Regions from separate parts of the Homo sapiens genome. Here region 1 is linked to region 2. Evidence: fine-mapped expression QTL. A gene starts in region 2. The other region holds a variant in brackets. All regions are shown on one strand. Distances are from middle to middle.

Region 1 (5,201 bases), 89 kb before region 2:
ACTATCTGATCTTTGACAAACCTGAGAAAAACAAGCAATGGGGAAAGGATTCCCTATTTAATAAATGGTGCTGGGAAAACTGGCTAGTCATATGTAGAAAGCTGAAACTGGATCCCTTCCTCACACCTTATACAAAAATCAATTCAAGATGGATTAAAGACTTAAACATTAGACCTAAAACCATAAAAACCCTAGAAGAAAACCTAGGCATTACCATTCAGGACATAGGCATGGGCAAGGACTTCATGTCTAAAACACCAAAAGCAATGGCAACAAAAGACAAAATTGACAAATGGGATCTAATTAAACTAAAGAGCCTTCTGCACAGCAAAAGAAACTATCATCAGAGTGAACAGGCAACCTACAAAATGGGAGAAAATTTTCGCAACCTCCTCATCTGACAAAGGGCTAATATCCAGAATCTACAATGAACTCAAAACAAATTTACAAGAAAAAAACAAACAACCCCATCAAAAAGTGGGCGAAGGACATAAACAGACACTTCTCAAAAGAAGACATTTATGCAGCCAAAAAACACATGAAAAAATGCTCACCATCACTGGCCATCAGAGAAATGCAAATCAAAACCATAATGAGATACCATCTCACACCAGTTAGAATGGCAATCATTAAAAAGTCAGAAAACAACAGGTGCTGGACAGGATGTGGAGAAATAGGAACACTTTTACACTGTTGGTGGGACTGCAAACTAGTTCAACCATTGTGGAAGTCAGTGTGGCGATTCCTCAGGGATCTAGAACTAGAAATACCATTTGACCCAGCCATCCCATTACTGGGTATATACCCAAAGGACTATAAATCATGCTGCTATAAAGACACATGCACACGTATGTTTATTGAGGCATTATTCACAATAGCAAAGACTTGGAACCAACCCAAATGTCCAAAGTGATAGACTGGATTAAGAAAATGTGGCACATATACACCATGCAACACTATGCAGCCATAAAAAAGGATGAGTTCATGTCCTTTGTAGGGACATGGATGAAATTGGAAATCATCATTCTCAGTAAACTATCACAAGAACAAAAAACCAAACACCACATATTCTCACTCATAGGTGGGAATTGAGCAATGAGAACACATGGACACAGGAAGGGGAACATCATACTCTGGGGACTGTTGTGGGGTGGGGGGAGCGGGGAGGGATAGCATTGGGAGATATACCTAATGCTAGATGACGAGTTAATGGGTGCAGCGCACCAGCATGGCACATGTATACATATGTAACTAACCTGCACATTGTGCACATGTACCCTAAAACTTAAAGTATAATAATAATAAATAAATTTAAAAATAATAATAAAAAACTTCAAATTTGCAAAACATGCACATGTGTTTGACAGTGTCACAATACTAAAAGTCTTTTCTAAAGATGTTGATGAAAATATTAATGCATGTGATTTTTTAAGTATTGTATAATTAAATGTGTCATACATTTGCATAACTCATTGAACATTTGCATAACTCAATGAACCAATATTTTCCAAATGACCAATGCATCATGTTGTAAAATGCTGCATGGGTAAAAATGCATTCAAAGTACAGAATATAACAATAGATTTTAATGTAACAGGGAATAAAAAGTTCATTGATATGGGTTCTGATTCCACATTGTAACTAACCTTTAAGAAACTATCACTTGTCAAGTTTTGGTGTAGTACCAAAGAATATCCACAATTATCAACAAAGTCTATTCAAATATTCCTCTCTTTTTCAAGTACATATTTATGTGAGATTTTTATACATCACAAGCAAAAATAGAAAGACTGCATTAAAAACATGCTTCAAGCCCCCTTGCCCATGACCTGGCCTCTGCCCCCACACCCACCACCTTTCTGCACAGCCTCTTGTCTCTGAGGAGCACAGCAGCCTAGACGCAGTGACCTGGTCTACACCTTGCTGCATCTGTGTCTGAACCTGGCATAGAATGTGGCGTGCCTGATAGACACTGGATGCCTGCTATTTGGAATTCATTTAAAACATTTCTATTGTAACAGAGAAATGACTGAACATTTTTAAATTACAGTATTGATATTAGCAAAGAGACACTTCCATTTCCCCTCCATTCATACAAAAGCACTGGAGAGGAATAATTTCCAGTGGT[G/A]TTTCTGGCTCAGAATTGTAAGATCCCACAGACTCAGTCCATTCTGCTGATGGACAGCAGGACAGGGAGCCAGGCCATCTGGCACAGGCGCATTTGTCAGCTGCAGGTGCACAGAGTATGTGACACACATTTGGACAGCAGTGACAAAGTCATGTGGCAAGAATGCTGCACAGGCTTCCGATGCAGAAGGCGGCACTGAAGGATGTTTAGGAGCATTTTCGTCCATCCCAAGTATACAGACGGCTTGTCAAGTTCATATGCAATCTGTGCCTACAATATTTACCAATTTGTGAAATGTATTCTTAAGTGTAAATCAAGGTGTAAATTTGCGTTTGGGTATACTACAACTTTTTTTAAGGCCTGTCTTTTACTTTTCATTCTATTTACAAACAGCAAATGCGAGTTTGTATTTATGGACCTCTTTTTTGCAACGCCGTGGATACCCCTCCTTCAAAGATCAATAAAGACAAATCCTGAAGATGAACAAACGAGAAACAAATGCCTTGCCTTGAACGGAAATTATACGACCTTATGGATGGAATCTCCATGTACTCTGAACGGCGAATCTCAGTTCTGAGTTAAAACTCCCAGATGCTTCTCACATTGGCTTTGTCTTGGGGAAAAGCTGCCAGGTTCCCTGAAGATATGAAGAAAAAAGGCCCCTGAACAATCTCATTTGTCAATTCAAAGTGTCTGTGGACTTTCAAGTCCCTTTCCTCTTCACGTTTGATTTTCTTTCCTTAAATTGCTCATCGGAGAAGACACATTTTTCTCCAAAATATGGCTGTCAATTTAGGGTAACCAAGTAATAAATTCCCCTAAAAGTACCCTCACAGAGTGTGGTGTAAGCAGCCAATAAGGATTTCTCATTAAGCCTTCCCAGAAATGAAAATTTGAAATGTTACTTTTTGTGTCCAAAATTTATATTTACAACCAGGTCTATGTTACCACAACCTAAACTCCAGCTTGTTTGGTACCTTGCAGAAACATCGTAAATTGACTATATATATAATTATAATTTGAAATAATTCATATATCTTAAAAGTTACAGAGAGGATCTCTGTAACTCATGGGGAAAACCAAGTAAATACAAATAAAATACTTTCCTTTTGTGACTACAATGGCTTGTGCATTATGTGGTCATATTTTAATAAACACCTGCCAACCTGAGGCCAACAGAAGTAGGACAAGGGGCCACTCGTGGAGAACAGAAATGGAATCTGAAGCCCCAGACACCAGGGGCTGGATGCACAGCTCAGAGAAGACCATCCGGCTGAACTAGCAGGGACTGTTTCTGTTTTCTCCAGGGCCTATTCCTGCTGCTTAGGCGTTACAAGGCAGGCATCAAGTTCTATGAACTACTTTAATGTCCTCTAACCCCACGGGAGATACCTACACTGACACTTTTAATTAAGAGTTTGCTCACAGCAAAATCCCATCACTGTTCTTTGTCTATGTCATAGCAGATGTCCCAAAGTAAGAATTTTGTCTATCTGCTTAAAACCAATTTTCTGTAACAGATAATATTGTGGATAACTGGTGAATTAAAAAAAAAATGAACTAATAAATGAATGGCCAAAGGCTACTGAGGAATTGGGTGCTCCCTGAACACCGAGCTTCATCTCATCTCCTTTCCTTTTCACTGTCAAGGTCAAAAATAAGTTTGAATATACCAGAGGGACACAGAATGCCCTGTGGCGGTGTGTCATGAGAGTACTGCCTGGATCCTGCACCCTGCCCACAGGGTGGCTTAGAGGAGAAGACATTCTGCCGGCGGGAGGGGAGGAAGAGTGCTGGCCCAGCCTTGGCATGGCACCCAGGCCACTGCAAACAACACAGTGCTGGAGAGGTGTGAGGGTCATCAGGCCCCCGGGGAAGCTGGGAAGCAAATCCAAGTCCACTGGGGAGAGGGAAAGAGGATGAGAATTTGAGTCCTCAGCCTAGCAACCAGGAGGAAAGTAGGGAAGCTTCCAAGATGGAAGGCAAGGCGGTGAAAACTGACCTGCATCCGCTGATCTTTGTTCACTTGCTACTTCTCCAGGCTAGACTGGAACCATTTCATTTCCTTCTTCAGGACCCTAGTTGTGATTTCTAAAATTGTCGTGAATACAACAAAACTGCTTCCATGGAGCCCACCACACGAAAAGGCGATTGGTCCATCCGTGACTGTCTCTTATAAAACGCTAATGCAATACCGTGTGTTTGATTAATGAAGAGTGGAGCCCACCACACGAAAAGGCGATTGGTTCATCCATGACTGCCTCTTATAAAATGCCAATGCAATACCTTGTGTTTTATTCATGAAGAGCACTGCCCAGAGCATCTTTTCTGTTTTTAAGTGAAAATCTTTCTCCTATTATTTGAGTCCAAATGAATCTCCTATGTATAGAGGGATACAAGCTTTCTACTTCTAGAACCACAAAATTTTCTTTTTTTTTGAGACAGAGTCTCACTCTGTGGCCCAGGCTGGAGTGCAGTGGCGCGATCTCGGCTCCTGCAAGCTCTGCCTCGCGGGTTCACGCCATTCTCCTGCCTCAGCCTCCCGAGTAGCTGGGACTACAGGTGCCCACCACCACGCCTGGCTCATTTTTTTTATATTTTTAGTAGAGACGGGGTTTCGCCATGTTAGCCAGGATGGTCTCGATCTCCTGACCTCGTGATCTGTCCTCCTTGGCCTCCCAAAGTGCTAGGATTACAGGCATGAACCACCGCGCCCGGCCTAGAACCAAATAATTTTCTAAAAGTTTCATTGCTTAATATTTCACCACGACACCACTTAGCATTACTAATGACCTTAGACTTCACTTTTGAGACTCCAATGTTGATTGCTATTGACCTTGTCTCTTAGAGAAGCAATAAAAGACTTAGCTGTGGTGATGGAGTAGTATCAACATAATAAAGAGAAAAAACAGTAAAGATACTGGGCAGGCGATTAATTTTAAAAATCAATTAATGAATCAATGCCATTGTCATTTTGTTGCAAAAATCCTGAGTCAGAGATAATGCTGGATCCTGGTTTTATTGGCATTTCTGGCAATGTTAATTAAATGAAAACCCTCCACTGATTGAGAAA
Region 2 (5,201 bases):
CGTCATTGTTTTGAAAAGTAATTATTATCTTATAATATTTTGTTTTATAAAGAAAAAAATTATGTCCTTTGGGTCTCAAATTATTTTCTTCCAGAAAATGCAGGAAATGTCTGAGTAATGGCTGGATATTGGATAGATTTGTTGGTGTTTGTCTTTTTAATGCACCATCTTGAAACCACTATTATGAGGGGAGCTCCCGGATCACTAATATATCAACAGGCTTCACTTCAAAGTTCATTTGCTGGTGACACAATTAGAATATTATTTTCCAGTGAAAATTAATTGAACTGCTCAATGGCTTAGCAATTACAGAATATAAATTTCCAAGAGCTAGTTTACTTTACTAATACCAGTGAAAATCCAGCCACATTTTTCAGAGCTTTGTTCACCAAAGTCTGAATTCCAATTTCAGACTCACTGACCTAAAAAAAACTGAAGAAAAGGAACCCCACGTGCTCTCTATGTTGAACTTCACATGCAGACATGGCTCATCTATTTTACAGCAGTGAAGATGCATGGATAATAGATAATGCAAAATAACCCAGGCTGTCTGCCACACGGACCCCAACTCCCCTCCCTCTGCAGTGGGTGACATTTCTTTCCTCCCAAAAAGTAAAATAAACAGTAAGAGCACTGGGAAGAAAAACATCTCAATTTTTTCTCAATATTTTTGCTACATGTCCAAAACATTTTAAATAAACCATGAGACTCGAGACTCTCTCTACAAAACTGGAGGTACAACACGGTCTGGTTAGAAAATATCCAGCCCCACAGCAAGGGGAAAGAGTAACATCTCCCAGGCACACTCCAGGCTTCGTGGCAGGTGCTTGATACGTTTCCTTCCTCATTTGCTAACATGTAAAACACAGGCCAATTTTACAAGAAAATGTCTTGGGATAAAATTAAATACTTTTCATTATATATGTATCGAAAGGGACTTTAAAGGCAGTTTTTGTAGAGATATATTCTTTAATTGTAAATCAGCACTGAACACTGGATCCTGGGTAGGATGTCAGTTCTAGATATTCACACCATCTGACTAGCTTGGAAAAAATAATCACAAATCACATGGCTATAAAGGAATATAATTTTGTCCATGAATTCTAATACATAACAGGATTATCATAGTAATAAATTTCAATCTGAAATATGCTAATCCAGATTCTACCTCTTAGCAACTGTGATGCCTGTGACTTACGACTTTTCTTCAGAAACAACTGAATGGTAAATTCACATCTTTGCAAATGCCACTAAGAATTTGGAACCATACACCAGCCCTCATACTAAATCCTACTACTTTTTCAAAAAACAACAAACAAAACTCAAGCTGCTGATTTAATTCAGAGCATTTTTGAACGGAGAGCATTTGAAAGAAGAAAATGGAAATTCTCTCTGGGGAATCTCACTTTTATCTCAGCCCTGAAGAATGTCCCCACACAAAGCTATACAAAAGGAGTAGTTCACAGTCAAAAAATAAGTAAACCTACAAGGAAACAGAGAATCAGGAGAGAAAAGCAGCTGAGATCACAGAAAGCAGACACAGGCTGCAATAATGGGATTACAGACACAAACCGTGGGAGGGCAATAGTTTAATTAAAGGCAAGCTTGAAAATGCACGCAGGACCAAGTGATGGACACAGAGTGAGAGGGGTCACCCTGAGCGATTTCAAATGGGAACTGCCCAACCCGCCCCATTCCCAGGCCCTGCCCCCCACGCCCCTCCCCCCCACGCCCCTCCCCCCTCCCCCTCCCCTACACTCCTCCCCACGCCCCCCACGCCCCTCTCCACACCCCTCCCCCATGCCCCTCTCCACACCCCTCCCCCACGCCCCTCTCCACACCCCTCCCCCACGCCCCCCACGCCCCTCTCCACACCCCTCCCCCATGCCCTCCTCCACACCCGTTTCTGCCCCATGCCCCTCCCCCACGCCCCTCCCCCCTCCCCCTCCCCTACACTCCTCCCCACGCCCCCCACGCCCCTCTCCACACCCCTCCCCCATGCCCCTCTCCACACCCCTCCCCCACGCCCCTCTCCACACCCCTCCCCCACGCCCCCCACGCCCCTCTCCACACCCCTCCCCCACGCCCTCCTCCACACCCCTGTTTCTGCCCCACGCCCCTCCCCCACGCCCTCCTGGCCGTCTCTGGGGCGGTCCTGAATCGCTGCCGGCCAGGGCCCGCCCTGCCCCATAGGAAGGGACCCTGGGGGCGGGGCTGCCTCGGCTTCGCCCCCAGGAAACCACGTGGCCTGGGGCGGCCCGACGCCGGCTGCGCTGGATCCACGCCGAAAGATGGGCGCCCGAGCCGGGAGGGAAGCCTGGGGAGGACACCTGGGGGGCACGGCCCTGACCACGCTCAGACCCAAGAGGGCGGGGAGGGGCGCAGGGCGCGTGGGGGGCGCGGGCGCACTTACTCGAGCTCCTTGAAGCGCTCGCGGCCCGCCGCCACGTACTTGCCGCCCGCCTGCAGCGCGTCCAGCCCCAGCACCCGGTGCCCACGCGTGGGCGTGAAGAGGCGGCGCACGCCGAACGGGACGTCCACCTGCTCCGTGAGCTGCTCCAGCAGCGCCTCGAAGGTGGCCGCGCGGCGCCGCGACAGCACGAACTTCTTGCCCACGTAGAACGGGTCCCCGTTGCGGTACACCACGATGGTCTTGGCGGGCGTGGTGTCCACCGGCGCGGAGGGCCCGCGGGTTCCCATAGCCGCGCCCCGCTCCTCGCTCGCCGGGGCCGAGAGGCTGCGGCAGCGCGGGCAGCGACGCCTGCAGAGCCGCGCCCAGGCCCGGGCACCGCCGACGGGAGGTCCGCTCCAGCCGCTGGCGCAGGACGGGGACGGGACGGGGACGGGACGGGGGCTGGACGGGGACGGGACGGGGCTGCCAGGCGGGCGGAGGCTGCGTGTTGACGCGACCCTGGGCGATTGTGACCGCCTGGCCGCCAGGGCGAGGGGCTCGGGGCCGGGGCAGGAGACGGGGCGACGGGGAACCCGGGCAGGTGAGCAGGCGGCACGGGGCAGGGACAGGTGATTGGGTAATGGGGAGCCCAAGCAGGTGAGGCGCGGCACAGGGCGGAGACAGGTGAGGGGGCAACGGGGAGCCCGGGCAGGTGAGGGGCGTGGCGGCAGAGCTCAGGAAAAGAGGAGGAGGAGGCGGCTAGCATGATTGTGCTGAGCGCCCCGGGACGCCCACCGTGCCTCCTCCCCCTACACTCGCCGCCTTCCTCTGTAGAAGCGGTAGAGAGGAGGGTTAGGGAGGGACCAGGACCATCTTGACAATCAACATTGGATGGGTGCTGGGATCTGCTTCACATTTTTTGAGCCTCTGTTTCTTTGATCTTAGGTTGAATTTGACCGGTTCAGCCCCAGTGTCTTCCAGGACTCCTGGCCCAGAGTGGGGAATTTGAGCTTTTCCACCAGAGGAGGAGGTGTGCAGAGCCACTGGGAGGCCGTGAGGAACCGCGCTATAGCCGCTGGTGTGCGGTGTCAGGCGCGTGCCATTCAGAACGCATCCTCATTGGGGAATGATTCAAAGGGAGAGGGGGTCTTTGGAAGAATCGTTCCTACTCTGGGTAAAGATAGGCCAGTCCCCTTGAGTGATTCTAGACAGTCAGTAGGCTACATGTTACGGCTGGAAGTCCACACCGAAGGTACAGATATTGATATTATGAGTATTAATATCTTATAATGTTCAAAAAAAGTAGTTCCGTAGAGACCACCAGTCACAGCCATAGCCAGTATGTAAGCTACTAAATGCCTCATAGCAACATTAAATACAGAGATCAATTTGTGAGACGACCACTTTATTAAATCACCAGGTGTTCAAAACATTTGAAAAGAAGACTATGACTGGGAAATTACTGCTGTGTGTCCGACACCGGGGCTTTGTGTGTGTTAAGGGTTTGCTTTGAAGCTCACCGAGAACTTCAACATGGGCTTCTCCCGGGGCCTCAGGAGGCAGATGGAGCTGGGGAAGCCCCGGAGCCGAAGGCGGCTCACTCCCCCGTCGGGGACGATGGTGAGCCTGGCGTGAGTGATGACATCTTGGAGCTCTAGGGTCAGGCTATCGAACAGATGACTTTGGTTGGGAGACAACTGAAAAGCAAGCAGATGCAGAGGTCCTAGTCTGTTAACAGGACATGTGTGGCCGAATGAGCCCACGGCCCGGGCAAACCTTTGGCTTAGACTTAACCGAAGGGGCTTTAAAATAAGTTATTAATTGATGATAATTGGGCTTTCCATGAAAATCTGCTAGTAGGGATAGGATGCCCAAATAATACATGAATAAGCAGGCCCCAATAAACAATTGATGGGCAACCTAAATGCCCATCAGTTGTTTCTAATAGTTGATTATACATAAGCAAATTGATAAGAAAATGAAGGAAGAGACCATCTTGGTCTCTCCCGGAGATTATTTCCTATCTTTACATGGGAGCAGCTCTCACCTCTAGCCTGACCCTCTTTCTAAATCAAAGAAGACACTTGTGGAATATCTCAGAGCATCCATCCTGCAGGTGGACACGCCATTAGAGCTTTAAATGTGCTAGTCGCCCCTTCTACAAAGTTAAACATGATGCAGAGACATGTTTCCACGTATGTATTCTGAACATTTAACAATTTTGTTCTAATAAAATTTGGAAATACAAAAGTGGAGAGAAATAGAGCCTTTCTTCTTAAAGTTTGCAGATAGGGGTTTTAAACCTCATTCGTTTTACCATTAAACTGAGCAGAAACTTTGGAGCGTATCCTAATCCTTCAAAAGAGAATCTTAGGGAAATAGCACAGTCTGAGTGCTGGATCCGAATAACATGCCACACGAACCTTGGTCACTGGAAGCAGTGGTTTCCACTTGTGGGCCGGGAGAATCCACTTTTGCCTGATCACGGCTTCTTCTTCCTGAGTTGTCAGGATGCACCCATCCACTTTACAGCTGTCAGGAGCATTGCCTGTTGGAGCAAAACACAGCGTGATTTTCTGCCCGCATTTGCACTCAGTTTGGCGTATAGGATATCATGCTTTTTTAATAAGATCAAAAACCCAGCAAAAAACAAGTCCCTGCTCTTCCTGAGCAAAAGCAAAGGTATGAAGTATGTGAGGGAAGGAACAAACCGGTTTGTGAGGCTCAGATTGTCTCATGAAATAGACATTTCTTTTTCAGAGGACTCAGAAGCAGTCCGCCATATGTGAAGGGGCTGGCGCATTTCAAT

Direction of the effects. Alleles are on the strand shown, and positions count from the first base shown. SD is a standard deviation of normalised expression in the study named.
For the expression in caudate of the gene that starts at base 2,877 in region 2, A is the high allele of the variant in region 1 and G is the other (moderate effect, 0.65 SD a copy in GTEx).

What was found. PIP is the estimated chance that this variant, and not a neighbour inherited with it, causes the effect. A credible set is the group of variants that fine-mapping cannot tell apart.
Region 1: its variant is the best candidate, but not a certain one, in a credible set for the expression of DCDC2C in caudate (GTEx, PIP 0.54).

What each region holds. Positions count from the first base shown.
Region 1 is chr2:3,790,474-3,795,674 of GRCh38, reverse strand. The region is part of intron 10 of DCDC2C (doublecortin domain containing 2C); the gene reads right to left. Among named protein-coding and RNA genes, the nearest start is that of DCDC2C, 89 kb to the right of the region's middle. The variant G/A (reference allele first, on the strand shown) is at 2,129.
Region 2 is chr2:3,701,251-3,706,451 of GRCh38, reverse strand. It overlaps DCDC2C (doublecortin domain containing 2C), which reads right to left and starts at 2,877. Exons shown (of 11, transcript NM_001287444.2): 1 at 2,414-2,877. The coding sequence starts at 2,700. ALLC (allantoicase) reads right to left here. Exons shown (of 12, transcript NM_018436.4): 11 at 4,816-4,940; 12 at 3,781-4,089. The coding sequence ends at 3,889. It overlaps LOC105373393 (a long non-coding RNA gene), which reads left to right and starts at 2,952. Exons shown (of 3, transcript XR_922732.1): 1 at 2,952-2,993; 2 at 3,338-3,644; 3 at 3,813-3,892.